Regions from separate parts of the Homo sapiens genome. Here region 2 is linked to region 1. The links come from fine-mapping of genetic effects on gene expression. A gene starts in region 1. The other region holds a variant in brackets. All regions are shown on one strand. Distances are between the middles of the regions. Region 1 holds the start of MS4A1 (membrane spanning 4-domains A1). Region 2 overlaps MS4A14 (membrane spanning 4-domains A14).

Evidence for each region.
Region 2: its variant is fine-mapped to the expression of MS4A1 in whole blood (TOPMed, PIP above 0.99).

Annotation. Positions count from the first base shown.
Region 1 is chr11:60,446,944-60,463,998 of GRCh38, forward strand. It overlaps MS4A1 (membrane spanning 4-domains A1), which reads left to right and starts at 8,904. Exons shown (of 8, transcript NM_152866.3): 1 at 8,904-9,002; 2 at 14,129-14,217; 3 at 15,242-15,590; 4 at 16,059-16,178. The coding sequence starts at 15,432. MS4A5 (membrane spanning 4-domains A5) reads left to right here. Exons shown (of 5, transcript NM_023945.3): 5 at 706-849. The coding sequence ends at 816. RefSeq lists an enhancer at 10,983-11,092.
Region 2 is chr11:60,397,960-60,415,014 of GRCh38, forward strand. It overlaps MS4A14 (membrane spanning 4-domains A14), which reads left to right. Exons shown (of 5, transcript NM_032597.5): 2 at 1-21; 3 at 2,445-2,495; 4 at 4,953-5,102. Among named protein-coding and RNA genes, the nearest start is that of MS4A14, 10 kb to the left of the region's middle. The variant G/A (reference allele first, on the strand shown) is at 13,435.

The DNA.
Region 1 (17,055 bases):
TATGCATTTATAAAATGGACTATTTCCTACATATATAAATCAAAAATGTATTTTTATATGCCTTTCTCTAAAAAGATAATATGCTATGCTATGCTATGCTATGCTATCCCATGCTATGCTATGCTATGCTATCCTATGCTATGCTAGCTATGCTATGCTATGTTAGCTATCCTATGCTATCCTATGCTATGCTATGCTATGCTATGCTATCCTATGCTATCCTATGTTATGCTATGCTATGCTATCCTATGCTATGCTATCCTATGCTATGCTATGCTATCCTATGCTATGCTATGCTATCCTATACTATGCTATGCTATCCTATGGTATCCTATGCTATGCTATGCTATGCTATCCTATGCTGTGCTATGCTATGCTATGCTATGCTATGCTATGCTATGCTATGCTATGCTATGCTATGCTATGCAATGCAGTGCTATGCTATCCTATGCTGTGCTGTACTATGCTATGCTATCCTAGGCTATGCTATGCTATGCTATCCTATTCTATGCTATGCTATCCTATGCTTAAATAGATGCATACTCTGAAAATCCTTCACTGATTTGATTCCTAAGCATCAGATACACTTGAGATATTTGGGGAAGCTTTTATTATCTGGGCATCACTATGTCATTATAATCAGGAAAACCGTTACTGTGCCAACATCATGACTCTTCATTTTTTTTTCTTCTTCTTCTATTACAGGGAATTTTGATTACATTGATGACTTTCAGCATTATTGAATTATTCATTTCTCTGCCTTTCTCAATTTTGGGGTGCCACTCAGAGGATTGTGATTGTGAACAATGTTGTTGACTAGCACTGTGAGAATAAAGATGTGTTAAAATATTATGTAGCAATGACTTCTGCTTGTAAGGGAAAGCCAAAGGACACATAGAATCTTAAGGCTGGGAACTCTTTGAAGCAAAGGGGAGTGGCTCAAGTGAAGGGGTTCTGGGGACATTTTGACTGATAAAGCACATTCTGCCTCTTGGCAATGCCATCTGCACCTCTCCCCAAATCAAATGGTCACCTTGGTGTTGTCACCTCTGTTAGTCATGCATTATTTCAACTAAAGGACAGCAATGTGGTGTTGCAAAGATAGGAACCAAAGCCCAAGGCCTGGGGTGACCCAGTCATCTAACTTCTCTGGTTGATGACATCTCCTGTTGATTTCACTAAGAGACTCCACCCAGTGGCTCCTACTCCAGTGGTGTGTGGAAAGATGAGCTGGTTGGTGGAATGGTTTGGCCCATAAATTCTACATTAATGCTGCAAGATCATCAATGTTAAAGAGCTGATCAACTAGAATACTAACAATAGTAAAAATAATGAAGGCAAATATTGGTGGAACCACTACTATATTCCAGGCATCATTCTAAGTATTATATAGGTGTTACTCATTTAATCTCACAAAAGTCCTAGGAGGTGAATTGTATTATTATACCCATTTTACAGAAAAGGAAACTGAAGCACAGAGGGGGTAAGTAATTTGCTCAAGGTCATAAAGTTTGCAATGGCAGAGCCATAGTATCAACAGGCAGCCGGTTCCAGAATCCAAGGTCTTAATTCCAATGCCAAGCAAAGTTTGGAAGGAACTACTTTCCTCTGGATTCTCTTAGCAGCTTTTGCATTCAATCTGTTATGATATCTCGTGTTCTGTAGCCTATGGAGTATACTACTGTAAACTTGTGAAAAGAGAAATAAGGTCTTAGTATTATTACAAAAATAGTTTTGAACTTATAGGGCACCTACAAAGGTCTCAAGGACCCCAGGAAATCCGAGACCACACTTTGAGAACCACTACCTTATATGGTATTGCCTCTCACTGGCTGAATACCTCCTAAGTATTAGAGGTCTCACCTGTATCATCTCACTTGTCCTGACAGCCCTCAGGGTAGATATGTCTTTTGTCATAGTCATAAAAATTGAAGCTCAAAGTGGTTAGCTTTTCTGAGAGCACAAAAGGAGCATGATTTAGAAAGAGGATTTGAGTCAAGTTCCCTAACTTCAAATCCCATTATCCTATGTTGTTTATGGTATAGAAAAAAAAAACTCAGCATACTCAAAAAATGAAGTAACAGGCTTTCATTTCTACTATTTGCTGGCAGCAGCTTAGGTTATAGGTGCATTTGTGAAGGTGACGGATACAACATGGCAGGAAAAATAAGTAAGTTTTTTACTTCAGTGAAGTTAGGTTATGATGAAAAATACTTGGCAACTGAATGATGTACAGATGTGTGAGGCTTGAGATATATTTGAGGGTGCAAAGTCTTGGGCTTTTAAGTCAACTAGGTTTAAATGTTGTCTTGAAGTCAAAAAATAGTAGATGCAAGTTGTGGAGAAAAGGGAATGCTTACACACTTCTGGGGGGAATGTAAATTAGTTCTGCCACTGTAAAAAAAGCAGTTTGGCAATTTCTCAAAGAACTCAAAGCAAAATTACTATTCAACCCAGCAATCCCATTATTGGGTACATACCCAAAGGAACATAAATCGTTCTACCATAAACACATATGCACGTATATGTTCATTGCAGCACTATTTGCAATAGCAAAAACGTGGAATCAACCTAAATGCCCATCAACAGCAGACTAGATAAAGAAAATGTGGTACATATACACCATGGAATACTACATAGCCATAGAAAAGAATGAGATAATGTCCTTTGCAGCAACATAGATGAAGCTGGAGGCCAGTATTCTAAGCAAACTAACACAGCAACTGAAAAGAAAATACTGCATGTGTTCTCACTTATAAGTGGGAGCTAAACATTGAGTACATATGGACACAAAGAAGGGAACAACAGGCACTGGGGCCTACTTGAGGGTGGAGGATGGGAGGAGGGTGAGGATCAAAAAACTACTATTGGGTACTATGCTTATTACCTGGGTGACAAAGTAACCTGTATATCAAACCCCCGTGACATGCCACTTACCTATATAACACATCTGCACATGTACCCTGAACCTAAAATAAAATTTAAAAAACAAAGAAGAAATGTTAAAATTATTAGAAATAAAGATAGAAGACTTCTTTACAAAGTCAAGGTAGTAAAGAATTTCTTAAACAGATCCCAGAACATGAATAGTACCAGCAAGAACTGATACAACCCATTTAGTCGTTATTAAGAATGTTACATAAGTGTGACGAGAGCAGCTACAAATCAAAGCCTTTTAGCAACACAAATAACCAACAAAAATAATGGGATATAGAATATATAAAATCCTCCTATACATTAATAGAAAAATACAACTTGATGAAAACTTAGTCCAAAGCCATGCACAGCCATTTCACAGGAGACAGAAACAAAGGTTAATATATGAAAAGCACTCAATTTCTTAAGCAATTGTGGAATGAAAGGAACTCTCCTACCACAATGGTATGAGTGTAAATGAAGACAACCACTTTAAAAACTATTCCCTAGTAAAGGTAAAGATACACATACTTTATAACCCAACAATTCCACTGCTAGTTAATATACGCAAGAGAAATCCTTGTACATGTGCAACATATGACACGTACGAATGTTTCCAGAGCAGGATTGCCTGCAATACCTCAAATGTCCATGGACAGAGAACAGATCAATTGTACCATGTTCCCTACTGGAGGACCACATATTGGTAAAAATAAATTACTTGAAGCAAATCAACAAAGATGAATTATACACATTTAATGTTGAGTAAAGAAAGCAAGTCACAAAAGAACATCTTATTAATTCTACCTAAATAATGATTAGAAAACACAAAAACTGCTCTCTCCCTCTCCCTCTCCCTCTCCCCGCAGTCTCCCTCTCATGCTGAGCCGAAGCTGGACTGTACTGCTGCCATCTCGGCTTACTGCAACCTCCCTGCCTGATTCTCCTGACTCAGCCTGCCGAGTGCCTGCGATTGCAGGCTCGCGCCGCCACGCCTGACTGGTTTTGGTGGAGACGGGGTTTCGCTGTGTTGGCCAGGCCGGTCTCCAGCCCCTAACCGCAAGTGATCCGCCAGCCTCGGCCTCCCGAGGTGCCGGGATTGCAGACGGAATCTCGTTCACTCAGTGCTCAATGGTGCCCAGGCTGGAGTGCAGTGGCGTGATCTCGGCTCGCTACAACCTCCACCTCCCAGCCGCCTGCCTTGGCCTCCCGAAGTGCCGAGATTGCAGCCTCTGCCCGGCTGCCATCCCGTCTGGGAAGTGAGGAGCGTCTCTGCCTGGCCGCCCATCGTCTGGGATGTGAGGAGCCCCTCTGCCTGGCTGCCCAGTCTGGAAAGTGAGGAGCGTCTCCGCCCGGACGCCATCCCATCTAGGAAGTGAGGAGCACCTCTTCCCAGCCGCCATCACATCTAGGAAGTGAGGAGCGTCTCTGCCCGGCCGCCCATCGTCTGAGATGTGGGAGCGCCTCTGCCCCGCCGACCCGTCTGGGATGTGAGGAGCACCTCTGCCCGGCCGCGACCCCGTCTGGGTGGTGAGGAGCATCTCTGCCCGGCCGCCCCATCTGAGAAGTGAGGAGCCCCTCCGCCCGGCAGCCGCCCCGTCTGAGAAGTGAGGAGCCTCTCCGCCCGGCAGCCACCCCGTCTGGGAAGTGAGGAGCGTCTCCCGGCAGCCACCCCGTCCGGGAGGGAGGTGGGGGGGTCAGTCCCCCGCCAGGCCAGCCGCCCCATCCGGGAGGGAGGTGGGGGGTCAGCCCCCCGCCCGGCCAGCCGCCCCGTCCGGGAGGTGAGGGGCGCCTCTGCCCGGCCGCTCCTACTGGGAAGTGAGGAGCCCCTCTGCCCGGCCAGCCGCCCCATCCGGGAGGGAGGTGGGGGGGTCAGCCCCCCGCCAGGCCAGCCGCCCAGTCCGGGAGGGAGGTGGGGGGGTCAGCCCCCCGCCCGGCCAGCCGCCCCACCCGGGAGGTGAGGGGCGCCTCTGCCCAGCCGCCCCTACTGGGAAGTGAGGAGCCCCTCTGCCCGGCCACCACCCCGTCTGGGAGGTGTGCCCAACAGCTCATTGAGAACGGGCCAGGATGACAATGGCGGCTTTGTGGAATAGAAAGGCGGGAAAGGTGGGGAAAAGATTGAGAAATCGGATGGTTGCCGTGTCTGTGTAGAAAGAAGTAGACATGGGAGACTTTTCATTTTGTTCTGTACTAAGAAAACTTCTGCCTTGGGATCCTGTTGATCTGTGACCTTACCCCCAACGCTGTGCTCTCTGAAACATGTGCTCTGTCCACTCAGGGTTCAATGGATTAAGGGCGGTGCAAGGTGTGCTTTGTTAAACAGATGCTTGAAGGCAGCATGCTCGTTAAGAGTCATCACCACTCCCTAATCTCAAGTACCCAGGGACACAAACACTGCGGAAGGCCGCGGGGTCCTCTGCCTAGGAAAACCAGAGACCTTTGTTCACTTGTTTATCTGCTGACCTTCCCTCCACTATTGTCCTATGACCCTGCCAAATCCCCCTCTGTGAGAAACACCCAAGAATTATCAATAAAAAATAAATAAATTAAAAAAAAAAAGAAAACACAAAAACTAAGCAATATGTCCGTGTGAAATGTAAGCATATGTGGAAAGTCAAAATACAATGAAAAGGAAGAGAGTGATAAACACCAAATTCAGCATAATTGTGAGCTCTGATAAAGAGGGTGGCTTGGGGAAGGATAACCTGAGAGCTTTCAAAGGTATCAGTGACACTCTTGTATCTCTAATCATGGCTGTGGGCACATGGTTTCTTGTCTCACTGTTATAAGTACTTTTTCATACATATTATTTAATTTTTTGAGAAATATAATTGAGAAAGCAAAACAACATCTTATTTTCATTAAATTTTTTATCACATAATGATATTTTTATAGTCAACACCTGCAGAAAAATGTTACCGTTACATATCAGTAACACTTCATCTCCAATGATAGCATATTTATTGGTACATAAGAGAAAAAACTCTTTTCAATAACTATGAGGTCATAATTGCATTTTTTTCTTCAGCTATATTCCCACGTCACAAAAGCAAAGGGAGTGATCCAGTAATCTGCACATGGGAGTACATCAGACATTTTTATATCTTAAAACGAATAATAATAAATGTTTTGCCATTTAAAGCTGTGTCACTTGAACAAATTAATCTTTGCGGGCTTAAAATTTTTAGACTAGAATGCAATAATAGTAATACCTACCTAATGGGTTTACTGTGAACCTTAAATGAAACATGGAAAGTGAGTTTATCAGTGCCTGGAACTTAAAAATCACTTAGTAAATGCTAGTTTTTGAAATTTATAATTGAGATTTTCTTGCTCTAAACATCACTTATTTTACCATTTACCAGCTTTCCAACTTGGGAATGGCTTCCTCCATTTCCTGAAATTTAGTTTCCACAATTATAAAACAGAATCAATATTATATGTGTGGTAAGGCTTATATGTGGACAATTCTTGACATAAAAGGAATTATTTAACTAATATTACCTTCCTAGCTGTTCCAAATGTATAGTCCCTTAGAAGAGAAAGAAGACCCTATCAACTATAAAGTTCTTAAGTATTTCAATTTACATTTTCCTTACTATGAATTATTTATAAGTGCAACAATGGGATTTTCTGACCTGTAACCAAGTTCTATTTGCAATTAGATCTTTAGCCTCACCTCTGACGAGCCCTATGTCTCCCTTACCAATTCTTTGACACCAGAACCCTCCAACAGCAGATAATTCTGGGTGCCAGGGCCTTGCTGAGAAGTTGAGAACGTGGCATAATGTTACTTCCTAATATTGGAGAGCCTGGGGACAATCACCTGGGTGAAAGAAAAAGCCAAACAGAACCATTCCTTCTCAGCACTGCCAGGGACACAGCAATCACAAAAACTGACCCTGCCTTCAAGGGACAAGGAGACAATGGCTGATTAAGGCAAGGACACAAATAATTATGATGTAGCACACAGTTTTCATATAGAAGGCAATGATTAAAAAAATTGGAGTGCTGGGACGTGCAGAGAATAAAAAGGAAATTCACATCAGGAAAATACTAACTAAATAAAAGTTGGCATACTTTTATGTAGACTTTAAGATTGTCTTTTGGAAGCAAGGTCACTAGATAATGAAAATAGGCTTAATTCAAAGAGAAATATTTTAAATATGTTATCAACCTAATAAAATATTCTCAAACCTTGGGGGAAGAGTGATGGTGATACATCAAATAAGATGCTATTGACAAGTCCAAATTGTAGTGAGAATTTCAACACACTCAAGCACTAAAATGTTGATCATTCAAATGAGCAAAGACAAGGTAAATGTTTATGCATTCATACAAATTCAAATTCAAGTTTATTTGGGAAGAATCATACATAGAGCCACCTAAGTTATCTCATTGGCCACAAAGTAGCAAACAACCTGAGACTGACTGGGGAAATACAGGGCTCAAACAGAGAAAAGGATGCAAAAGACCAGGTTGTGCTGCCACAACTCAAGCCCCTTTGCTGCCATACATTTGCCAAGTCCTGACCCTGTTCCCATGCCAACTAAAATGAAGGCACATGCCTCTAACCACCCCACCATCCAGGACTCAAACCTCAGGTTTCACAATCATCCACAACTCAGACCCTAGGTAATTGTCCTCCCATCACCAATCACTCAAGCATTTCAGCAGATATGCATAGACCCTCAATTAGAATGTTAAATGGATGATGGATCTTCTGTTCCCACTCTCCTTCACTCTACAGCATCTCTGAGAGGTGACTGCATGACTTTACTTGAGTATTCTTGAAGAAGTAAATTCTCTATTGAAATGGTAGCCAGTTCCCCTAATGAACGGCTCCAACAATTTTTTTTTTTAGAGTGGCATCTTTTTAAATATCACACCACAATCAGCCTCCCCAGAACTACTTCTACCCAGTGGATCTAACCCTATGGTTCCAAACTATCTTAAATTTAAAAAGAGAGGCAGAAAGAGAAAGAGAGAAGAGATGAAAGAGAGAGACAGGAATGAACCTCGAATTAGGCAACAGAGCTGCCTGCCATATTTCATCCCTTTAGATTAAATAAACAAATAATTACCTAACTATAGCTCTGTGTCTCTAATAAAATGAAGCAATGAACAGGGAAATAAAAATGTAATTAAAAATCCCACATATGAACATAAAAGTTGAATATTGTAGGGGGAGAGAGAGGACATTATCTTTGGGCAAAACTTTGATTCACATCCCAAATATTTAGACTCTCCTGACACTACCAACTTCTTCCATTTCCCTACTTGATCTAGTACTGTGCTTGATGACCCTGCAGCTCCAGACTAGACTAAAAAGAGAGGGGACACAAGGGAACTTGACAGACAGAAGAAAAAGGTGGGTTCAGAGGTAAAAGTGCTATTTCAATTTATATTTCCAAATATGGAGGCTAATTCTTGCTTTGAGTGGCTGGGTACATGTACTATGGCACTAAAGTATAATTTTAGGCCATTTCTGCTAAATCTGACACAAGATATATACATGGTTCATAAGAAACTTAAGTGTGAGCCAATGAGGACAATATTTGGGGACCCCTAAGTATAGTGCTGCCAAGTGTACAGCCTCAGTGATTCTTGAATCTCTGCATGGATGCCTCCTGCCCACCTACTCAGCCCTAAAAGTGAAGCCAGAAGGTAAAAGTCAGTGCTAACGGCCCATCTTTGACCAACTTCTAGAATCTTTCTTGTCCTCAGGGACCTACCATCCACACCTGCTTATAGGGTGGGGGCTGCAGAAGTTCTTCTAATTAAGGTAGCATGAGCATGCCAGGCAGTCCCCTGGGGTCTTTTTCAAGAAGTGAAACCTGGTAAGGCAGAAACTTTTTTTGCACCTCCTTCAGCTATGGTAAGTGTTAAACCAAAGTAATTGGAGCGAAGCCCAAGGTAGCAGAAGCTACTGATTTCCTGTCACCTGATGTCTATCAGCGATTTCATCTTCAGGCCTGGACTACACCACTCACCCTCCCAGTGTGCTTGAGAAACAAACTGCACCCACTGAACTCCGCAGCTAGCATCCAAATCAGCCCTTGAGATTTGAGGCCTTGGAGACTCAGGTAAGGAATCAATTTGCTTTCTTTAAATGACTTAAAGGAGGTGATGGATAAGGTATAGAATGGTTTTGAAGACTGGAGGTTCTTGATCTTAATTCTAGAGTTTCCCTAGTCAGACTTCCTAATAGTTCTATGACTTAAGGAGGGGTGACGATATCAAGGCTTGCTGCCCACTCACTCCTCTAATCAGTCTCCCTCTCAACAATTACCCTATGCAGTCAACTGTGAATCATTCCACAAAAGTAGTAGATTGCAGCATATATATTAAATCATGGTTTCTAAACCATTGGGTTCAAACTGGAGCTCTACCACTAACAAACAATATAACCTTGGGCAAATTACTAAACCTCTAAAGCCTCAGCTTCCTCATCTATAAAATGGGGGCAATGGTACCCATTACATTAGGAAAATTGGAACTAAAATCCTGAATCCCTTAGGACTTCCCAATACCAAATGAGAAAATAATCAGTCATAGGCATAATGAAAAAAACTCCATTTGTCTTCCTGTAAATGCTTTTGTCTACATTAAATGTAAATATACCTAGAAGTATAGGTGGCTTTACAGGCTAACATTTTCTGGAGGGGATTTGTGGACACCAAGTTGAGCATGAAATCCTGCCTCAAATCTATCACATGGGAAACCAAGAGTAAGAGGGGGCGCTGCAGATGTGGGGGAGCTCTAATGAAGGAAAACAAGGATTAATTTTAATCATGCCATTACTGTTTTCTGAATCCAGTATATAAGTGATTCCCTTTCCCTGTTTCCCATAAAATGGCTTAATCTCACTGAGAATCCGGTGGAAAGAAATGTTTAATCCAGCATTGTGAGCATTTTTGTGTGTGTGTTTTGTTTGTTTGTTCATTTTTTAGTGGAGACAAGGTTTCTCCATGTTGGCCAGGCTGGTCTCGAGCTCCCGACCTCAGGGGATCCACCTGCCTCGGCTTCCCAAAGTGCTGGGATTACAGGTGTGAGCCACTGCACCTGGCCATTGTGAGCACTTGTTAAGCTTCCCTGAGGAAGTAGCTGAGTTTGATGTTCAGCTTAATGTAACTGAGCTCATAGTACATAGAAAACAGGTTCCCTATGCAAGTCTAGTAGGATACAGGATTCTCCGAAGAAAGTAGTTGATGTCTAGTAAGGAAAGCAAAGAGCTAGGAGCTCTGAAGAATTCCTTGCAATCAGGCAAGGAGAGCAGGAACGCCCTCAGGTGATGTGCATATCTAATGCAGAGTTTGATTGAAAGTAAAGAGGGAGGGAGAAGGAACACTTCAAAGTTGAGAAGATTCAGGAAAGAAGGTAGAGGACATGTATAGACCAGTGGCTCTGGTGGCGGTAGTGGGATATGAGCTTGGGAAGTCATACAGGGCTGAATTCCAAAGGCCTTGAGGGGTTAGATGAAGGGTTTCTCCAGCAGGTAATGACAGGCCAGCAAAGGAGTTCAGGCTCAGGAAGAGCATCACTCAAAACAGTGATCGGGAGCTTGATGTAGCAGCCTTGTGGACAATGGATTAGAAAAGAGAAAGACTGAAGGCAGAAAAGCATGAATGGAAATGAGAAACTCACAGGTGACTCTGGATATAGAAAAAAGACCCACATGCAAAATGTATTGCAGAGGTAGAAATGGCATGACTTGGCCACTGACTGACCAACAGCCAAGATGAAGATGGACTGAGAGATGATGGAGCTAAAGTGAAATGTGGTCCCAACTATCTAAGCCTGGGTGGCAGGAGAAACAAATAAAACAATCTGAGACACGAGGCCTGAGAAAAGACCACTGACTTCACAGCACAGTCCTCAAAGACCAGTTTCAGTCCACTGACTGGCGGAAACTAGTTGCCAAGCATTGAGAAGTGAGTGGGTGGAGAGGAGGTGGGGGAAGAGAGTGGGTAGCAAAGCTTTGAAGCAGCTGCGGTGAAGAAAAAGTGAGCCTGGGCAGTGGGCAAGGACATTGCTAGATTAAAAGAAGAGGACTTTGGGATTCAGGGACACTGAAGTACATTTTAGTCATAAAAGGAGTATTTAGCACCTTAACAAATGCAACTTATCTCATATTCTCAAAATGATACTTTGAAATGGGGAAGGTAACTATTACCTTAAACTTACAGAGAGACCACAAGAGGAGCAAGCAAGAGAGCTGGGACTAACTCTGTCTGCTACATATTGCCAGAAATTGGGAGACTGAAGGTGCAAAGAAGAAATAATTTCTTGGAAGGGCTAACAGCTTGGTTGGACTGAGATGGGCTGAAAAGCACAGAGGGAAGGGAAGTAAGAGCACTCTTCCTCGGAGATAGGTGCACAGGAGGCCAGAAGGGATAAAAATGCAAAACTATTTTGAGTGGAAGAGAATGAAGATGAGGTAACAACAGTGAGGCAGTTTTTAAACTTCTCAGTACATGATGGTACGAGTGGACTTAAAAGTCTATTCAAACCAAAACCCATAAAGGCTGTGAGATCTTATTCAGTGGATGGACATGAAAACAGGGGTGCCTTTAAAAATAAAAAAATATTTGCAGGAGTTAGTGTGAGTAATTAAATGCGGTACTGAGTGATCACCTGAGTCTCTATTTTAACATTCATGCTGATTTGGACACCAGCAAATGTAAAATCTTATTGTTATCATATTGCGGCTAATGTGGTCCATAACCCCTACTAATCTACCAACTAGTCTTTGAGCATAACTGTGCATTGGGCACTAAGTCATTGTGAACAATTTATTTTAATGATAAGGCAAAATTGCGAGAATCTCCAATCTCCGTAGGCGAGTTTTATGTATTTATGAATTCTCATGGAACGAAAGCTTTTCATTACAGTCAGCCCACAATGCCATAAATCGATTAATATATTTACCTCTCATATATGAGACAGATATATATATAATCAGATATATATATGAAAGATAGTTTCCATAAGAAATAAAAAAACAGAGAAAGCACTCATGTGTTTCTTTATAAACTACTATTTTATACAAATATTTGTTTAAGGTTTGTAGAAGTATAGTTGCCACCATGAGATACCATTTTAACAGAGAAATATCACACACACACACACACAGCCCTCATGGTCATTATTGCCATTAGTTACAACAGGCATAGCCCAAGTAGAATTGGCTTACAAAAAAGTTTATCTCGCCAATAATACAGACACAGCTTTAATCAAGCAGTTGATGAATAAAATGAAATTAAAACAATGGCAGTCCAATCATCTCCTTCAGTTCAAACAATTGATGACCTTTGCATTTTAAGTTATCTTCACTAAAGTTACCCCTCTGGGGCGGAGTGTAGTGACTCCCAGCTCATTCCATACTTGCCATAGGACCTTGGGAAAAATAACCTCTCTCAACCTCCATTTCTTCATCTGCAGAAAGTAGTCAAAATGCCTACTTACGAAGGTGTTGAGTGAGTTGGCAATACCATATACAATATCTCTAGTATATAGTAGGTGCTCAGTAAACAACTATAATTATCTGGACTCACCTATGGTACAGCAGAAAAAGCATCAACATCAGAGCCATGGTGAGTGCCTTCTAGCTTGGCTCTGTTGCTAACTGTGAGGTCTTTACTAAGGCAAATTCTATACCCAGACTGCAGCTTCCTCATTTGTGAAATGAACAGAATGGTTTCTGAGGTTTGGACTAGCTCTAGAAATCCTACCTAGTGACCAGAATCAGTCCGCAAACTCTTTAGTGGGCTATATTAAAATATCTGTTTTTGTTAGAGGTCTTGTAGAGTGGCTTGTTGTACAAAGCAGATCCCCAGGACCATGTGGCATCTGGCTATCTAGGGCAGGGGCAAAATCAAGTGAGAAACAACCAAAGTTTCTTCTCTCTTTCCTCTAGCCCATGCGCCAGACAGATAATACTTTTCAACTGATTTATAGTCATTCACATAGTGCATATATTGGAAGGAGAAAAGAGGGGTCATAAGGGAAAGGCTGAATTCCTATTTCTCACAGGAGACAAAGCAGCCTGGTACCCTGGATGCCTAATTTGAGAGATCCAAGTCTTCATTTTAAATCTTTACAGGCTGGGCATGGTGGCTCACAGCTGTTATCCTAGCACTTTGGGAGGTGGAGGGGGGCAGATTGCTTGAGTCCAGGAGTTCAAGACCAGCCTGGGCAACATGGCAAGACCCCATCTCTAAAAAAAATATAAAAATTAGCTGAGTATGGTGGTGGTTGCCCGTGGTCCCAGCTACTCCAGTGGCTGAGGCAGAAGGATCACCTGAGCCCAGGAGGTAGAGGCTGCAGTGAGCTGTGATCATGACACTGCACTGCAGCCTGGGCGACAGAGCGAGGCCCTGTCATGAAAACAAACAAACAAACAAAAAATATTTACTAATTATGTAACTTGGCACAAGTAACCTAGCTTCTCCGTGCCCTTGTTTCCTCTTCTATAAAACACAGGTGATGATTCACCCCTTGCCTGTTCTATAAGGCTCAGATGAGATGCCATGTGTCAAATTTACTTCCAGCCCTAAAGTAGGTATAAATGTGACAGTAGTCAGCTGCCTGTTTTACAGCACACCTGCAGCTACTCAGCTCTGATTGACTTCAGTAAGATATACTTCAGGCTGTGGTCTAATGGCTGGGATGTGGCACCGGCTTCAGTAAGATATGTGACCTGGATAGACAGTCTTGATTTCCAAGACATCTTACATGACTTACAAGCAATAAAGACAAGAGCAAAGATGTGTCCCCAAAAGAGGGATTTTCAGATTCCAGGAAAGACCCAGTGGAGTCCGCATAAGTGGTTAACATGAACAAGTGAATGCTAAGGAAACCCAAGATGAAGATTGAACAGAATCTTAAAATGTCTGAGCTGGAAAGGGCCGTATTAATTGCCTTCTCACTTCAGAAATGAATAAATCATGAAAACTGATAAATAGCATTTACTACACTCTCCCTTTGTCCTAGGCACAATTACATATGTTAACTTATTTATGTCTTACATCTCAGAGAGGGGTACTGTTCTAACTTTACAGAAGGATAAAATCGAAACTAATGCTCAGCAAAGTACAAAGAACAAGAATAGCAACAAAAATAACTATTTATTCCAACATGGGTTCTTTGCATACATTTATTTCTTCAATAATATTTATTAAGAAGTAACTAAATCCAAAAATTATTTTAGATCCTGAACAAGAGAGAACAAAATCTCTACTTTGATGGAACTTCCATTCTGTGGGGAAGAGACTGACAATAAGCAATTAAATAAATAAGGTAATTTCCTACAGTGATCAATGCCGTAAAGCAATTAAGATAGGATTTTGTAAAAGACAGCAAATAGGAGTACATGTTATAGATTGAGGGTTCAAGGTAGGCTCCTCTAGGAGCTGACATTTGAGCTACACCTGAACAAAAAGACACTAGCCATGCACAGACCATGAGCCCAGTTAAGTGTTATAGCAGCCCACGAGATAAGAATTATTATTATTTCAATTTTACAGTTGAACCTGAGGCCCAGAGAATTTAAAGAACTTGCCCAACATCTCAGAACAAATGGAGGAATCACTATTGAAACCTAGGCAATCTGACTCAGGAGGCCACAGTCTTATATACTGCATTAGAAAGCCTTAGAGAGCCTTTTCTTTTTCTTTGAGACCGAGTCTCACTCTGTTACCCAGGCTGGAATGCAGTGGCATGATCTCAGCTCACTGCAACCTCTGCCTCCTGGGTTCAAGCAATTCTCCTGCCTTAGCCTCCCGAGTAGCTGGGATTACAGGTGCACACCAACATGCCTGGCTAATTTTTGTATTTGTAGTAGAGATGGGGTTTTGCCACGTTAGCCAGCCCGGTCTCAAACTCCTGACCTCAGGTGATCTGCCCATCTTGGCCTCCCAAAGTGCTTGGATTACAGGCATGAGCCACCGTGCCCGACCTAGAGAGCCTTCTTGATGTGACTTGCACAAGGTGGCAGAGTTAGAGACAGAGAGAGGCCTGGAATCGACCCCTCCTGCTTCTACAGATAGTCCTTACCATACTCTGCAATGTTGCCTCTGGCCCATCATAATGCACAAAGGCAGATAAGCAAAAGGACAAGGACAAGTCCATTGAAAATACATTTTTCAATATTAAAGCAAAAGAAAAGCATCCAGGAATAAGAAACAAAGAGGACATGCAGTCATATATGCAAGGTGTCCTCTACAAAGATAAAGAATGCCCCAAACCCAGTTGTCAAGATCACTGGCAGGGACTCCTGGGCCCACATGCTCTTCCTAAACAACCCCTCCATCTCCTTTCTCAGAACTCAGCAGTAGGCCTTGCCTCAGATCCAAGGTCACTCGGAAGAGGCCATGTCTACCCTCAATGACACTCATGGAGGAAATGCTGAGAGAAGCATTCAGATGCATGACACAAGGTAAGACTGCCAAAAATCTTGTTCTTGCTCTCCTCATTTTGTTATTTGTTTTATTTTTAGGAGTTTTGAGAGCAAAATGACAACACCCAGAAATTCAGTAAATGGGACTTTCCCGGCAGAGCCAATGAAAGGCCCTATTGCTATGCAATCTGGTCCAAAACCACTCTTCAGGAGGATGTCTTCACTGGTGGGCCCCACGCAAAGCTTCTTCATGAGGGAATCTAAGACTTTGGGGGTAAGTCAGTTGCCTTCCATCCCATGTCGTAGGGATTCTCTGGCTGACAGAAGCTGATGCGGTATAGGCCACATACAGAATTCAATCCAATTTGAAGAATTGGGATCCAACCTGATGTCTTCTTTATGTCTAACACAGTGGGCCAAATCAGGGGTGCATCAGAGAAGTTATCACTTAGATCACCTCTGGGTGATCTTATGTCACCTTTTGGTTTTGGGGCTTGTATATGCAGGGGTCCCCCATCCCAGTCCATTGCCAGAATCCCAGGCATACCTGCTCCCTGGAAATGCCCCATGTGGTTGAGGAAACAGATTCGAACAAGAAAAAGACAAAATTCTTGGCACCTCCACTGCTTCCTTTAGGCATTCCTCACAGCTCCAAGTCAGGAGCCAGAGCTTCCAACCTTGTCTTTGCCTGCTAGCAGTGATGATTTCAGCTCATCCACTGCTGCCTCTGTTCTCTCCCCAGGCTGTCCAGATTATGAATGGGCTCTTCCACATTGCCCTGGGGGGTCTTCTGATGATCCCAGCAGGGATCTATGCACCCATCTGTGTGACTGTGTGGTACCCTCTCTGGGGAGGCATTATGGTGAGTAAAAGAATAGCAGCCATTTGGGAAATGGTGCAGACAAAAATGTTAAAAGGCTCCACAGGGATATGCCAGATTATTTCTGTGTTGAGGGAAATATATGAGTAGGAAATATTATTGGGTTAAAGTAATTAAGAAGACAGGTTGACCAAATTGAGTATAAATCCCATGGTTGAGAGTCAGTGGTCCTGTTTCATGTGAATTCAGAGAAAGGGGCCCTGCATGGATCTCACAGGGACTGTCCAAAGCAAGAACTCTCCAAAGTCAGTTCTGGTGGGGAGGGTGGCCCTAGACATTTAGACTAGATAGCAAGATGTTTTGGAAAGCAAGAGGCAGCAGGAACATCCACTTCCATCTACCCCTTCTTGCTTACAATTCTGTTTGGTTACTATGGTACCTGGTGAAACCTGTCCCATCACAAGTCAGTCTCATTTTGCTTATCGACAGAGCAGCACTCTTTTGGCTGTTTTACGTACATGTTTTCCAAATCTGTAACCCTGTCTGGGTGTGGCACATAGGACAGTGATGTTTATTTCCCCGTGATACTTTTCATAGTTGCCACTATAAAAGATAAGTCCAGGATTAAAATTTTCCAAACAAGTAGAGATGGGTTAGAACAAGAGTTTCCTCCATTCTACAGCCTGAATGTGAGAAAAGGAAGATGAGCAATAGTCATCATCACTTCCTGTAACAGCCAATGTTTTCATGGAGTGCCTGTGCCATTCAGGTCAAGTATTTCCTTCTGCATCAGTTCACTCTTCAGAGGGCATCAGAGTCATTTATGTCACTGTGAACCCCAAAGGGCAGTTCCACAAGTTAAAAACAAAGAAAAACTAGAAATAAAACTTTTAAATTTATGGTATGAGTATTAATTGAT
Region 2 (17,055 bases), 49 kb before region 1:
CCATTCTGGGGAGCACTTATTGTGAGTACTGTCGATTAGAAGCTTTGGAGAAATTGCTATAAAGATAGATTTGAACTGCTTCACGTCCTAGGGTAATGAATTCCATAAATATGGCCCTCCAGGAGACCAAAAAAGGCAGCTCCCTTCACGGCAAAAGAAGCAACTCCATTTGGTCACTGCACTACCATCATCATTGTAATAACTACTCTCAGGTGCTTAAAATTTGTTTCCAAAGCCCTTGTGTGTATAGTAAGACATTTGCTCCTCAATACCAACCTGGGAGACTAGATGCACAAATATCCTACTTATTCCTTTGCAAATAAGGAAACTGAGCTCAAAAGTAGAGAATAACTTAAACATATCTAGCCTAGCTAGCACTCATGGAATCACAGACTCTGAAAGCTTAAAAAGAATTTTAAAATTATTATCACTCATCCTCCTTCTTAGCCCCAGAGACAACTTTATGAGTGGCACTCATCTAGATAATCATATAGCCATAAATATTATTCTTAATACAGTGCTATTTCTATCCAATCCCCACAGCCTGGATTCCTAATTTTGTGCCATAATATTTAAGGACAGACTCATTAGAGCTTCTCCTACTATAACATACACTCCTGAGAAGACAGCAGTGTTACTGTCTGTTTTAGTTGTTATATTCTGAGAACCTAGAATCATGCTTGAGGCATAGTGTGCATGAACGAACGAATGAATCAATCAATCAATCAATCAACAAATAGGTGAAATAATTAATAAATTAGGCCACTATCTCTGACTATTAAAAATCCACAGTCTCTTTTGATAAACAGAAATACTCCATGCCTTTTCTATAATGTGCATTTCAGAAACAACCAGCAGTGTTTTCATTTTCCCAATATAAATAATGTAATATTCAATATGATTTTCAAACTATACATGCCATACTGTAGAAAATCAAACAGACCAACCCCTCACTTTCTCATTTCACAACAGAATTGTCCCAGTGTGACTTTGTGTACTCTGCATGTGTGAATTAAAATGAGATTCTGGCATGCTGCTTTTGAAAACTCTACTTTTCACTTAAAAGATATTTACTGAGCACATACCGCGTCTTCAATGGCATCCTAGGTGCTGAGACTGAGAATACTGGAAAACAGCTCCTCTCTGAGAGAAGTGGTGAATTGTTCTTAGATTTAGACAGTTTGTCATCTAACTGGGAGACTAGACATGAAAAAGTCAAAAGTAACCCCAAATATTTGTTCCTACACTTGTGCTAAGTGCTCTAAGAGGAGAGTTCCAGGTGCGATGTGAGGGTTTAATAGAGGACTCACCTGACCATGGAGGTCAGGCAAGTGCTTTCTGCGTAGCTGCTCACTAGGCGAAGTGGAAGGAAAGCATCCCTGGCAAAGATAAAGCATGAGCCAAGGGCTTGATGTGGGAAAGAGTAACCAAAAGAAGACCAATGAATCTATCGTGATGGCATAAAATGAGGCTATAAAGGTAGGGTGTAACCAGGTCGTGCCAACCCCTATAGTCATGTTAAGAAAATGGAACTTCAATGTGAAAGCATGGGAAAGCCACTGAACGTTTTTAAAGAGGATAGTGACACTTGAAGACTTGTTGAAGTATCATTGTGTTTTTAGAGTGAGAAATTAATTCAATTATAACAGTAAACCTAGGAGAATCCAATGAGAGGAGGCTACAAACACACAGATGAGGAAAGAGTTTCCCGAACTAGCTTGGTGGCAATGGAGCTAGAGATGGAGAGCCTTGAGAGTGACTCGGAGGTAGAAGTGACAGGACTTGGCAATCCAATGTGGGGAGTGAAGCGGAGGGAGGTATCAAAGGTAACTTTCTGATCTCTGCAAGTCAGCTGCAGATCCTTGGACTCTAAGACCCAGATGTCCCCAAGGTCCAAGGCCAGTTCCCACAGAGAAGGTTCCCATCCCCAGAACATTAAAAAAGTAAGGGACTCCACATGGAGTGACAGAGTTCTCATTTTCCTGAGGTGGTACTAGGCTCTACGATCATGGGAAATGAGGGACTCTGATAACTACACTAGATATCAGTCCCCATATCAGCCTTTAGAGGGGTCTTCCTTGAGAAAGTCTCCCTTCACCTGCTCAGAACAGGCACAGCTCCTCCTCTTCTCTTCAAGGCCCAGAGCTCAGGAATCTCTTTTTGGAGCCCCAGCCGGATCAAACATCTGGTCCTCTGGATCTTAGAGGAGCCTGCCTGTCCCAGTTGGCCCTGGCAGAGAGCGCTTGTTCAGTGCTGAGCAAATCCAGCACAAAGTTTCTTCCTACCCTACCTACGCCTACCTTCCCTACTCCCTGATGCTCAGGTGGAAAAACGGGATGGTCTTGGAGATTCACAAACAGATATTTTGCAAATCCAAGGGAAATTATACTGCAAGGTGGTCAAACACATCACCTGTTAACTTTTGTCTCTTGTCTTCTTAACAGTTTATTCTTACAGGATACCTCACAGTAACCGATAAGAAATCAAAACTTCTGGTAAGCCACTTAAACTACATAAAATTTAAAATCTTCTATTTGTTTTATATCATCTTTATGTATGAAGCCTTTAGTAATAAAGTTACCTTTCAGGAAAATCTGTATGCATCAAAGTTGCAGTTCAGATCATTCCTATTTGCCAGTGCCACTGTTTGCCTGACAGACATTCTTACACTTGTTCCCATTTCCCTGGTCAAGTAAACTAAAAGAGTTGTTTATTGGAAACCATTCTGCATCCCTGTAATTCATTGTTTGTAATTAGGGGTAATTCCCTGCCCTGCACCCCCCAGGACCCAGAAATATTGGACAACATCTGAAGACATTTTTGGTCATTACAACTGGTGTTATTGGCAACAAGTGAGTAGAGGCCAGGGACATTTCTAAGCATCTAAAATGCACAAGGCAGCCTCCCCCCAACACAAAAATTATCCAACAAAAAATGTTTATAGTACCAAGGTTGAGAAACCTTGCTCTAACCAAAACCAATCCTAAGCTCTCACTAATTCTTCCTCCCAATCCTAGCCCTATCTCCAATACCAACCGAGGCTTTTCTTTAGATCCTGCCCAAGGTCTGGAAGAAAGAGTTTGGGCATCAATGCTGGATTGTTCTAGGATTGAACCAAGGCTATCACTCACTTCTGTGTTAACCTGAAGGGAAAAGTGCCTACTTCTAAGGGTTATTTTGAGAGTTTAATGAGACATTACTGATAAAAGGCAAGATGATGCTTAAATGTTCATACTCCTTTCTAACCACTCTGATCTTGTTTAAGGTCCTGGGGATGTGGGCCTCTCTGAAAGTCAGTTGAACTCTGTTCTTATGGTCCTCTGCCAGTTTCCTCTAGGGATAGTTACAAGGCATAGAGACATTCTGAGGGGAGGGCAGATAAATGTTTCCATCCCTGCTTATGGAAATACATGCAGACAATGCAGATGAAGCCCCAAATGCTGTTCTCCCTGTATTGACTTCCTTCCAGAGCTGAGAAATAAACTATGGGTAAGGAAAACCTACTCCTGACTCACTGAGAGCTATGCAGATGGAGGTGTGCAGGAATGATGGAGGCAGGATGCTGAACCAGGCATCAGAAGACCTGGCTTTTCATCACAGCCCTTCCACAAACCGTGAAAGTGATTGCTCACAGTCACTTACTTCCTTAATTCCATTTATCTGTAAAATGTGGATAACAACAAGTGTCCTTCCTACAGCACAAAAGTATAATGAGAATCAGAAGAGACTAGGCTGGGCATGTTCTTTGTAAAGCCCAATACACATGAGGGATTGATTATCTAGAGATCTTAGTCTATAAAATGTCCTATGGGAGCCAAAATAGAGCCTTGAGAAAACAAGGGGACTAAAGACCAAGAGAGAGATGGCCTATCTATATGTTCCTGTGCATTTTCTGCCAAAGTGCCTATTTGCAATAAAAACCTGGGATTGAGGTAAACATTAAGTCACAAGTACACTTCTGAGGTTTGCCACACCAAGCCACAAACTTCCAGAAAGGACTGGCTGTGTAAAGGCATCATTGTATTTTCCACCACGGTAGTCATAACACAATCAATAAAGGTACAGCAAATACCTGATGAATGGAAATGTGAAGCTTTTCTTTGTTTTTCCTTTAAAAGAGTGATATCAGTCCTGGGAGTGGGTAAGAAGGAAGAAATCAGATGACCCCCTTCCTGTAAAGGAACTCGGATATACCTACCCCACCCACCCACACCCCCCTCCAAAAAAATAAGAATGAATAAAGGGAATTGGGTGGGGCAGTGTGAAATATTTTTATTGCAACAATGAGTTCAAGAAAAAACACCTTTAAACTCCAGTCCAAATAGGTTAACATCTTTAAATGTTAACGATTCTGTTGATTATTGCTTGAATTCTCCCAGGGAATGACTGTAAACCACATGATTGCAGGATGTCACCTCTTTTGTTCATTTTTGTTTCTCCAGGGCCTAATGCAGTACTCACATGTATCTGGTGCACATTAAATATTTATGAAATAAATGAATAAATGGATACTACCCTAAAAGTTAGGTGACACATTCACATTTTTAAAGGCAGAAATTGAGATTCCAGGAGATTAGGTTACTTGCCTAAGGTCCTAGTGAAACTTGGACTTGAAATGAGGTTTCATTTCCAAGCAAAGATATTTGCTAACACATTGTACTGCTTCCAGATTATGAAAGATGGTGGTGATAAAATGAGATAAAATGGGATAAAATGAACATTTTCTTTAGCATTAGCCATAGAGCATCCTTAGCCCATTCTAAAACTTGGTTTGTCTTCTGACTTTAATGAGTTAGAATTTAGTTTATTAAGCCTTCCAATCATACTGACCTGATGGAACAACTCTTCCCTGAGAAGTATCTGGAAAGATAAAAGCACTAAAAATTTCTTACAAGATATTTTTGCTTTGGTTTCGATCTTATTTATTTTATCATTTTTAAACTATCTTTCAGGGTCAAGGTGTCACGGGCATGAATGTTATCAGCTCCTTGGTTGCGATAACTGGGATTACTTTCACCATTCTCAGCTACAGACATCAAGACAAGTACTGCCAGATGCCATCCTTTGAAGAAATATGTGTTTTCAGTAGAACTCTTTTCATTGTAAGTGGTCTTATTTTGCATGAAGAATCCCTAAAATCTTCTCTGAACTGTGTCCATGATGTAATGATTCACTGATTTTTATTTTATTAAATGAAGTTGTGTCAGCATTTGAACTGACGGTTGAGAAGGGTACCATGGGGTTACTGTTACAATGGTTAAGGAGCGATATTTTCTGGACTTGAATCCTGTTCACACAAGCTTGTCACCTTGGCCTAATATTGTATTCTCTCTAAGCTTCGGTTTTCCTCAAGTGGAAAATGAACATAATGAGAATGCTTACCTCATGGGTTGTTGTGAGGATTGCTTAAATTAAAACAGTACCTTGCACAGTTAAATAGTCAGTAGGTTTAGCTAATACAATTATTATGGCCATAGATTGAATTAAATTTTACTGTTTCAGCATTAATGAACAAAATGATCTAAAAGTTTGCTCAATAACACTGAGATCAAAATACAGTGGGGGAAGGTATTTAGAAGTCATTTAAAAAAATAAGGATTTTTATAAGCTTAAGACATACATTATTTCACATAATTGTGGCAATTTTATTCATTAAAGCAGATGAGAGATCTTTTACCAGGAAATGTAGTTGTCTGTGCAATTTAAAGTATTTATCTAACAAGTAATCAGTGACATTATTTTTAAGCATGTCAGTGACTCCAATAGGCCTTTCTCTCTAGTTCCCTAAGCAAGTCCTGGGGTTTTATTTTATTCCTACCAGCTATATCTTGAAGCATGGGTTCTATAATTTGAAGAATATTTGAATCCGTTAGAAGGGAAATAAAGTGGAATCACAGAAAATGGTCTTCCTCAGTAAATAAGAAATGAGAAGTTAGTTCCTGAATACAAGAGGTAATTTAATCCTCACAATCACTCAGTGAAATGGTCCCAGGGACTCTCTCATGTGTTCTGAGATAAATTCTAAAATTAGACTCATGATAGATTACTAAAGAAAGCCAGAAAACAACATAAGCGATAAAACCCTGTCCTAACTGGGCCAAGAACATGATACAACATTATAATTCTTGGCCATTGCTGAATGGACAGGAGGCAACTACTGTTTGTTATGTTCGTATATACGAGGAAGAACTTGTATATACCCGAAAGGGTTAAATCTCCAGATATATGAAATTCCGTATTTCCTGCTGTCCATGGATGGGTATTGCAAGATTAGTTACCTGCATACAGAACCATGAACAATCTCTTCCTAGTTCTCACTTACATAACTTAACAATTTCTTGCTGTAACCCAAACATCATAAGCTAAAAGAGCCAGAACAGTGGGCTTTAGATGTCTCTTGGGCTGACCCCTGTCCTAAAGACCAATCTATTGTCTATACTGTGGCTAGAGTAATCATTTAAAAATGTAAATCTGAGCCATTACTTAATGGCTTCCTGTAAAACGTATGATGATTAAGACCCAAATCTTAACAGCCTTACCAAACCCTGTAACACCTATCCTACCTATCTTTCCAACATTATTCCAGGACTTCATCCTTCTCACTCCTCCACACTCCAGCCACTTCCTATAATCCCTTAATGTGTCAAGTATCCACGGCCCCAAGATGATCAGAGGATCAGCTTCTTCCGGCTTTGAACCGTCACCAGGCCAGTTATACAATTAACTCATCCTCATACTTAAATCTCAACTGAAATACCACTTCTTTAAGGAAGTTCTTCCTGACCTCACCTCTATGCTCATATCTGCATAGATCCCCCATTAGAGTAGCGCATAGCTCCCAATCCTTCTTCACAGCATTTATCACAATTTAGTTAGGTAAATAATTATCTAATTACTTGTTATTGTCTGCCTCCCTTACCATGATGTAAGTTCTACAAAATCCAAGACCAGGTATATCTTGTTCAATGGAGAAAGTCAGTAAATTGCATACAATAGGGTCTTCATACATTTCAGTTTTACCAACAAATATTGAATATTTAAGATTTTGGGTGTATTGCAGGGAAACCAAGATTCAGAAACACACAGTTATTTGTTCAAGGTTAAGTGGGACTTTGGACCCACTTTTTTTTTTTTTTGAGATGGAGTTTTGCTCTTGTTGCCCAGGTTTGGAGTGCAATGGCACAATCTCGGCTCACCACAACCTCCGCCTCCTAGGTTCAAGCAATTCTCCTGCCTCAGCCTCCCGAGTAGCTGGGATTACAGGCATGCACCACCAGGCCCAGCTAATTTTGTATTTTTAGTAGAGACGGGGTTTCTCCATGTTGGTCAGGCTGGTCGCAAACTCCCAACCTCAGTTAATCCTCCTGCCTTGGCCTCCCAAAGTGCTGGGATTACAGGCGTGAGCCACCGCGCCCGGCCAACCTTGGACTCACTGTAACTCAGGTCTTTCTGTCTTCATAGTTTAAACTTTTGAGACACCATAAGGTACCATGTTACTTCTCAATATAAACATTACCTTAAAGCAAAATGGGCAAAATGGCAATCTGTGGGCTATATCCAGCCTGTATATATGTTCTATCTGGCTCTTTAGGGAAAAACAAACAAAATAGGCATTATGGTATCCATGTTCCCACATGACAGCAATTGGCTGGAATTGAGTAATGGATGCCTCCTATGAATACTATTACTCTCTACTCTTTCCCTGTTTAGTTCACAATGACTGCCCAGCTCCCATGGACATTGGAGTTTGTTATCCCTGCCTCATCAGAAAGACACAAGATGAAAATTGTGCAGTGTCTGATGGCTACAGAACCATCCAAAATATGGGTTTCCCATACTTGGTGATAGAGTGTAAGGGGTTCTCAGCTTATATATTTAAAATAACAGCTCTCATTTCAAATACCATTTATTTCTCCTCATTATTTGCAGGGAATTTTGTTAATCTTACTGATCATCAGCATAGCAGAGCTCAGCATCTCTGTGACTATTGCATCCTTTAGAAGCAAGTGCTGGACACAGTCAGATGAGGTGTGTTCTGATGTCTCTTAATATTATTAAGAGAACAGGTTCCTGTTCCTGTTGGGATACTGCACACAATGATGTCTGATTTATTAGTAGGAAAAGCAGCATGCTCAGATGCTGAAATAAAACATCTAAATTTAGGAAGGTCAGAGAGGGGCAAGCTTAAGATTGAAGCTCACCCCACCATCTGAAACAACTATGCTTTCCTTTCTTGTACTATCTGCTTTATACTCAGTCATCTCTGTTAAGACATAGCTCCTTATGTCTCTGCCAAAAATATGTAATATCAGACTTAACAGGAACCCAAATTACTGTGACATGGGGTGTATATTCTTGGATCATAAGATGTGTGACACAGTTCCACCACCACAAAAGAAATAGGAAAAAAAGCTGTTACTACTGATACTACATAGTATTTATAATAATTGTTATAGATTATATTTACTGAATTCTGACTATGTCAGTCACTGTTATAATCACTGAGCACCAACTTAATCTTAACAAAACTATTATAACATCTTTATTTTACATATGAAGGAAGTAAGGCACAAAGAGGCTAAACTAACCTCTCCAGTACCACATAACATCAGGATTCTGACCCCTGTGATATGTCTCCAGAGCCTGCTCACTAAGTCCCAAATACCAGTACAGGCCTTGTGATTTATGGAGATTTCATTTCTCTCTCTAGCTCTCTCTTTTTTTTACATCAACTTTATAGAAGTATCATTTATAAACAACAAAATGTACCTATGTTTAGCTACCATCACAATCAAGGTATAGTGCATTCCTAGCATCCCGGAAGGTTCACTGGAACCCCTTTGTAGTCAATGTTCTCATCACCTAGATTGGTTTTGACTTTCCAAAATTTCATATTCATGGAATCATAAGTAAGTACTCTCTGTATATGGCTTATATGGCTTCTTCCACACAGAAATATGTTTTTGAGAGTCATCCATGCTGTTGCCTCTATCAAGAATTCATTCCCTTTATGTATGGGTACACCACAATTTGTTTATCAATTTACCTTTTTTTTTTTTTTTTTTTTTTTTTTGAGTCGAGACCTCACTCTATGACCCAGGCTGGAATGCAGTGGCACTGTCTCGGCTCACTGCAGCCTCAATCTCCTGGACTCAAGCAACCTTTCCACCTCAGCCTCCCAAATAGCTGGGACTGCAAGCATGCGCCACCACCCCCAGCTAAATTTTTTTTGTATTTTTTTTGTAGAAATAGGGTTTTGCCACGTTGCCCAGGCTGCTCTCAAACTCCTTGGCTCAAGTGATACACCCACCATGACCTTCCAAAGTTCTGGGATTACAGGTGTGCGCCACTGCGCCCAGTCCATTTACCTTTTGATGGGTATTTAGATTGTTTAAAGTTCTGAACTATTATCATAAGTTACTAAGAATATTTGAGTTCATATATTTGTGTGGACATATTTTCACTTCTCCTGGAGTGTTGCATCTAGGATTTGATTGCGAGATCGTATGGTAACCAGATGTTTAACTTTATAAGAAAATACCAAACAGTTTGTCAAAGTGGCTGTATTGCTTTTCATTCTCATCAACAATGTGTGAGAGGGACAGTTGCTCCATATCATTAACACTTGAAACTGTCAGTTTATTAATAATTTAGCTATTTTAGTGGGTATGTAGTGGCACCTCATTGTAGTTTTAATTTACATTTCCCTAATGACTAATGATGATGACACTCTTGCTATATGTTTATTATCCATTTGTGTATCTTCTTTTGAGATGTCTGTTCAAATATTTAGCTGAATTTTATTGGATTATCTTCTTATTGGCCTTATAGCAGCCTAATTAATTCTTAATACAAATCCTTTACAAATATTTTTTCACACTGTGACTTGCCTTTTCATTTTCTTAATAGCTTCTTTGAAAAAAACAAATTTGATGAAGTTCCATTTATCATTTTTGCTTTTATGGTTATGGTTTTTGTGTTCTGTTTAACAGGTTTTCCCTACCCCCAAATCATGAAGGTTTTCTTCTATCTTTTCCTACAGAAGTTTTATAATTTTAGCTTTTGTGTTTAGATGTATGGTCTATCTTAACTTTCATGTACAGTTGTAGGGTAAGGTTAGAAGTTAATGCACATCCCCCCTCATGGAGATATCCAGTTGTTAACGCCATTTGTTGAAAATGCAATGCTTTCCTCCATCACCTTGGTATTTTTGTTGAAAATCAATTTACTTATTATTTATTTGTAGGTCTCTTTTGGATACTTTTTCCCTCTGGCCACTACGTCTATCCTTCCACGTATTCTACACTCTCTTCATTTCTGTGTCTTTAGAGTAATTCTTTTGCATTGTGGTGAAATATATATAACATAATAGTTATCATTTTAGTCATTTGTTCAAATCATTGAATACATTAATAATGTTGTGTAACTCTCACCACTATCTATGCCCCAAAATTTTTCATCATCCCCAACACAAACTCTGTACCACAAAACAATCACTCCCCGATTCCCCTCCTGATTGCCCCTGGTACCCTCTATCCTACTTTCTATATTATGAATTTGCCTTTTCTAGAGACCTCATATAAGTGGAATCTTACAATATTTGTCCTTCTCTAACTGGCTTATTTGAGTAAGCATAATATTTTCAAGATTAATCCATGTTGTAGCATATATCAAAATTTCATTCCTTCTATGACTAAATAAAATTCCATTTTGTGTATATACCATATTTTGCTTAGCCATTAATTTGTTGATGGACACAGATATTTCTGCCTTTTGCATATTGTGAATAATGCTGTTACGAACATTGGTGTAAAAATATCTGCTCAAGTCCCTGTTTTCAATTCTTTTGGATACATACCTAAGAGCGAAATTGCTGGCTTATATGGAGTTCTGTGTTTAATGTTTTGAGAAAATGCCAAATTGTTTTTCACCTTCGTTGCACCATCTTACATTTCCACTAGCAGTGTACAAGGATTCCAATTTCTCCACATCTCCATCAATACCAACCAACAGGGGAAAAGGGGGAGTAATTATTTTCCATTTATTTTTAATTTTCAATTTATGATTGACACATAATTGTACATATTTATGGGGTACAGTGTGATGCTTCAATGCATGTTACATTTTCTAATGATCAAATCATGGTAATTACCACATTCATCACTTTAAACATCATTTCTTTGTAGTGATGACATTCCAAATTTTCTCTTCTAGTCACCTGGAAATATACACTACGTTGTAATTTGCTATAGTCATGCTACTAAGTATAGAACTTATTCTTACTATCTATAGTAAGTAAGAACTTACTCTTCCTGTCTAGAATTTTATACCCATTGACCAATCCTTCCCGGTCCTCCCATCCTCCCTACCTTCCCTAGCCTCTGGTAACCACTATTCTAGTCTTCACTTCCATGAAGTCAACTTTTTTAGATTCCAAATGTGTGTGAGATCATGCAGTGTTTGTCTTTCTCAGCCTGGCTTATTTCACTTAATATAATGTCCTCCAGGTTAATGCATGTTGCCACAAATGACAGAATTACATTCTGTTTTATGGCTGAATAGTATTCTATTGTTTGTGTGTGTGTGTACATTATATATATGTAATATATAATGTATATTTTATATATATATATATTACATTTTCTTTATTCATTTATGTGTAGATAGGCATTTAGGTTGATTCCTTATCTTGGCTCTTGTGAATAGCACTGCAGTAAATATGGGAGTACAGATGTTTCTCCAACTGTCTTCATTTCCTTTGAATATATACCCTGTAATGGGATTTCTGGATCATATTTGTTTTTATCATGGCCATCTTTTTTCTTTCTTTCTTTCCTTCTTTCCTTCTTTCTTTCTTTCTTTTTCTTTCTTTCTTTAATTTTTATACAAAGACTATGTCACTTAGGCTACAGTGGCACAAGATCATATGTCACTTAGGCTACAGTGGCACAAGATCATAGCTCACTGCAGCCTCAAACTCCTGGGCTTAAATGATTCTCCTGTTTCAGTCTCCTGAGTACCTGGGATGAAAGGCATGTGCCACCACACCCACATAAATTTTTATTTTTATTTTTATTTTTGTAGAGACAAGGTCTTGCTATGCTGTCAGGGCTGGTCTTGAACTCCTGCCTTTAAGCCATCCTTCCACCTTGGCCTTCCAAACTGCTGGGATTAAAGGCATGAGTCACCACACCCAGCCTTATATAATGGCCATCTTAATGGGTGTGAAGTGGTATCTCATACTTTTGATTTGCTTTTACCTAATGATTTGATGTTGAGCATCCATGTATACATCTTCTTTGGAGAAATAACTGTTATAGTCTTGCCTGTTTCTTAATTGGGCTGTTTGTTTTTTGTTGTTGAATTGTAGAGTTCTTTATATATTCTGGATCTTAGTCCCTCAGTAGACATATGATTTGCAAATATTTTCTCCTATTCTGTAGGTTGTCTTTGCACTTTCTTGATGACTTTTGATGCACAAAAGTTCTTTATGAAGTATAATTAATCTATTATTTTGTTGTTTTCTGTGCCTTTCTTGTCACATCCATGAAATTATTGCCAAATTGTCATGAAGATATCTTCCAACTTTTTTCCATGAAATGTATGGTTTTAGCTCTTAGGCTTAGTGTCGGATTGATTTTGAGTTAATGTTTGTATATGGTATAAGGTAAGGGTCCAACTCTATTCTTTCACATGTGGATGCCCAGTTATTCCAGCATCATATGTTGAAAAAATTCCTTTCCCCATTGAATATTCTTGGTGTCTATGTTGAAAATTGATTTACTATATATGTGATATAAGTGAGCATTTATTTCTGAATGATTCCATTGGTCTATATATCTTCCCTTATGCCAGGTACCATATTTTTTGGGTTTTTTTTTTTGTTTGTTTTTTGTTTTTTGTTTTGATGGAGTCTTGCTCTGTCACCCAGGCTGGAGTGCAGTGGTGAGATCTCAGCTCACTGCAAACTCTGCCTCCCGGGTTCAAGCAATTCTTCTGCCTCGGCCTCCTAAGTAGCTGGGACTATAGGCGCATGCCACCATGCCAGGCTAATTTTTGTATTTTTAGTAGAGACGAGGTTTCACCACATTGGCCAGGCTCATCTCGAGCTCCTGACCTCAGGTGATCCACCCGCCTCGGCCTCCCAAAGTGCTAGGATTACAGGCATGAGCCACTGTGCCCGGCCCTGTATTGTTTTAATTAGTGTAGCTTTACAGTACGTTTCAAAGTTGGAAAGTATAATCACTCAAACTGTATTATTCTTTTTCATTATTGTTTTGGCTATTCAGGGCCTCTTAAAATTCAATATGAACTTGAGGATCCATTTTTCCATTTATAAGAAAAAGACTGTTGGAATTTTGATAGAAATTGTATTGAATCTGTATATTGCTTTGAGCAGCACTGACATCTTAACAATTTTAAATCTTCTTATAC[G/A]TGAACACAAGATGTCTTTTCATTTATTTAGGTCTCCAATTACATTCAGCAATGATTTATATTTTTTAGCATAGAGGTCTTTCATCCCATTGGTTAGATTTATTCTAAAGTATGTAATTATTTTAGGTGGCATTATAAATGAAATTGCTTTTTAAATGTTATTTTCATATTGTTTATTGCTGTTATACAGAAACAACAATGATTTTTTGTGGGTTGCTCTTGTATCTTGAACCTTGTTGCAATCCTGTATTAGGTCTAGTAGCTTTCCTGTGGATTTGGGAGGATTTTCTATATAGGAAGATCATGTCATCTGGAAATACAGATGGCCTTAATCTCCTCTTTTCTAATTTGGATGAATTTTATTTCTTTTTATTTTCTAATAGCTCTAGCTAGAACTTTTAGTACAATATTTAATAGCAGCAGTGAAAGAAAGCATTCTTATATAGTTCCTGATCTTAGGGGGAAAGCTTTTAATCTTTCACCACTGAGTATGATATTAGCTGTGGGTGTTTTATAAATAAACTTTACATATTGAGGAATTTTCCATCTCTTCCTAGTTTTATGAGAGGTTTTCTCATGAAAGGCATTTCATCAAATGCCTTTTCTACTCCAAGTGAGATGACTGTGTGGGGGTTTTCCAACATTATATTAATGTAATGTATTACATTTATTGATTTTCTTATTGTACCATCCTTGTATTTTGCTTATCAATTTCACTTCATCATATGAATAATCCTTTTCTAATATTTTGTTGGCAATTTTTGTATCTACACTTATAAAGGATATTAATCTGTAATTTTCTTTTCTTGCAGCATAATTATCTGTTTTTGGTATCAAGGTAATGGTGGCCTCATAGAATGAGTTAGGCAATTTTCCCTTCTCTTCAAGTTTTCAGAAGAGTTTGAGAATAATTGTTTTTTTTTTTTCTTTAAATTTTGGTAGAATTCACTGGTGAAGCCATCTGATCCAGAAGTTTCCTTTGTTAGGAACTTTTAGATTACGAATCTTTTTACTTGTTATGGATCTGTAAAGATTTTCTATTTCTTCTTGAATCATTTTAGGTAATTTGTGTGTTGCAAGGAATTTGCCCATTTCTTATACAGTATCTGATTTCTTGGCATATAAGTTTTTATAGTATTCTTTTACAATACTTTATACTTTTACTCTCTATAAGGTCAGTAATAATGTCTTACTTTTATGTCTTGTTTTAATTGTTTTATTGTCTTTTTGCTTTTCAGTATAGGTAAAGGTTTATCAATTTTGTTGATCTTTTAAAAGAATCAACATTTGGGTTCATTGATTTTCTCTATTGTTTTTCAATTCTCTATGGAGATTTCTCTTCTGCCCCACTAAAATTATGCTAGAGTAATTCTTGAAATCAGATAGTATAAATCTTCCAACTTTGTTATTTTTCAAAATTGTTTTGGCTGTTCTAGGTCATATGAATTTCCACATAAGTTTTAGAATTCGTTTATTGATTGCTACAAAAATCTTGCTGGGATTTTGGTTGGAATTGTACTGAGCCTATAGATAATTTATAAACAATTTACTTCTTAGTAATATGTAGTCTTCTGATCCATGTCCATGAAACATGTCTGTATTTTCTTACATCTCATTTCATTTCTCTCAGCACTATTTTATTATTTACAATGTATAAGCCTTATGCATACTTTGTTAAATGTATCTGTAATTATTTCATTTTTTCTTGATATTGTACATGGTATTTTTAATTTTATTTTTTAAATGTTCATTCCCACATATAGAAATGCAATTTATTTTTATATACTGGTCTACTATGACCTTTCTAAACTAACTTATTAGTTCCCATAGCTTTTTTTTAATAGAGTTTCTAGAATTTTCTTAGTAGATAACCATTTTAAGTATTAATAAAGACATTTTTACTCCCAAACTTTATGCCTCATTTTTCTTGCCCTATTACACTGTGTAGTCTCCAATACAATGTTTAAAATAAGTGATGAAAATAGCAATCTTTCCTTGTTCTTGATCTTAGGGTGAAAATGTTCAATATTTTACCCTTAAATATGATGTTTTTTGTAGGTTTTTTACAGAGTAAATTTACCCTGTTGCGCAGATTTTTTAAAATCATGAATGGGTATTGGCTTTTGTCATTTTTCATCTCATGCTTTCATCTTTATCGTATTATCTGTATATTACACAACTAGAGGAGAGTACAAACCCTGTTTTAAGCCCTTTAGAAACAATACTAAAATAAGTTACACTAAATAACTCTTCAATTGAATTTAGTGAATACAGATCTTTAATCCACTAATGGCACAGTAATGTGCAAAGTACAACAGGGGATTCAAAAATAATAAAATATGTACCTTGATCTCAAGAAAAGGAAAGGGAAAGTGAACTCTACATTTACGGAGAAATTTCTCTGTGCCAGTTTCTGTGCTTGAAAGTATTATTTCATTTGGTCTTTAGTCTTAGCCACCCTGAAGTAGGAAGTAGGTGACGTTATTAATACAAGAAGCATAGATCAGAGAGGAAAGCACAGGACCTCAGATTCAACTACAATTTTTAAATCCTTCCCAAGTAAACAGCTCTACGATACTGGTCTGGTTATTTAACATCTCTGAACCTCAATTCCCTCAATTCTAAAAGAAGGATAATAACTTCATAGGGATGTCATACCAATTTTTGTGATGACTTTGGAACATTGTCTAGCATCTGGTAATCACTGAGTTCTCATTAATGGATGAGGAAATTTAAAATCATAGCACTTAAGAGCTTTAATAAACAGAGAAACTATAATTATTTCTTCCAAACCTCTTTTTAAGTGGAAGAATAAATTAAAATTCACATGAAACAAAGTTTGAGGATTCTTAGAAATATAGAAATCTCTTCCAAAGTACCATTTATACTCACATAAATAGTCCTTCAATAGGGATAAAATATAGGTGTGAAAAACTAATTAGAAGAATGGGAAATGCAATGTATTATTTCAGAGAATGTGTAGATTCTCAATCTAGGCCTGCTATTAGCAAACGAGGTAAGCATAATTAATTCATTTAATCACTGAGTTCTGATCCACTTCATCAAATAGAACAAGTAGTCTATTCTGACTATGAATTATCTCAGAAAGGTGTAATTCATGGAGTCAGAATAAAAAGCAGCAGGTTGTGCTGCAGTAACAACCTCCTAAAAATTATAATAATAAAATGAGAACTAATGGGAAGCATTGCAGGTTGTATCAGATGTGGTCACTTAGCTGTTTAAAAAACTCCAATTGCTTCCTCTTATTTGTAAAGGAAAGTCCAAATTTCCTAGCCTAGCATACCATCTAATAATATCAGTAATATCTAACTGCTTACCATCTGCCATCACACCATGCTATATCACAACCTTGTGTTTTTGTACCCGCTATTCCACTGCTGCTTCTACCTGGATTCTGACTCCTGTCTTATTTCATCTTACCGTCTATGCCTGAGTAATTCCTACTCAGCTGTTAAGATATAGATTAAATATTGCCTCTTCTGTAAAGCATTTCCAGGTTGTCTCAGAATTAGGTCATCTTCTATGTTCCCATAAAGCACTAAGTACCTATTTATGTAATTGCATTTGCTGAATTGTATTACTATTATCTATTTATATGTT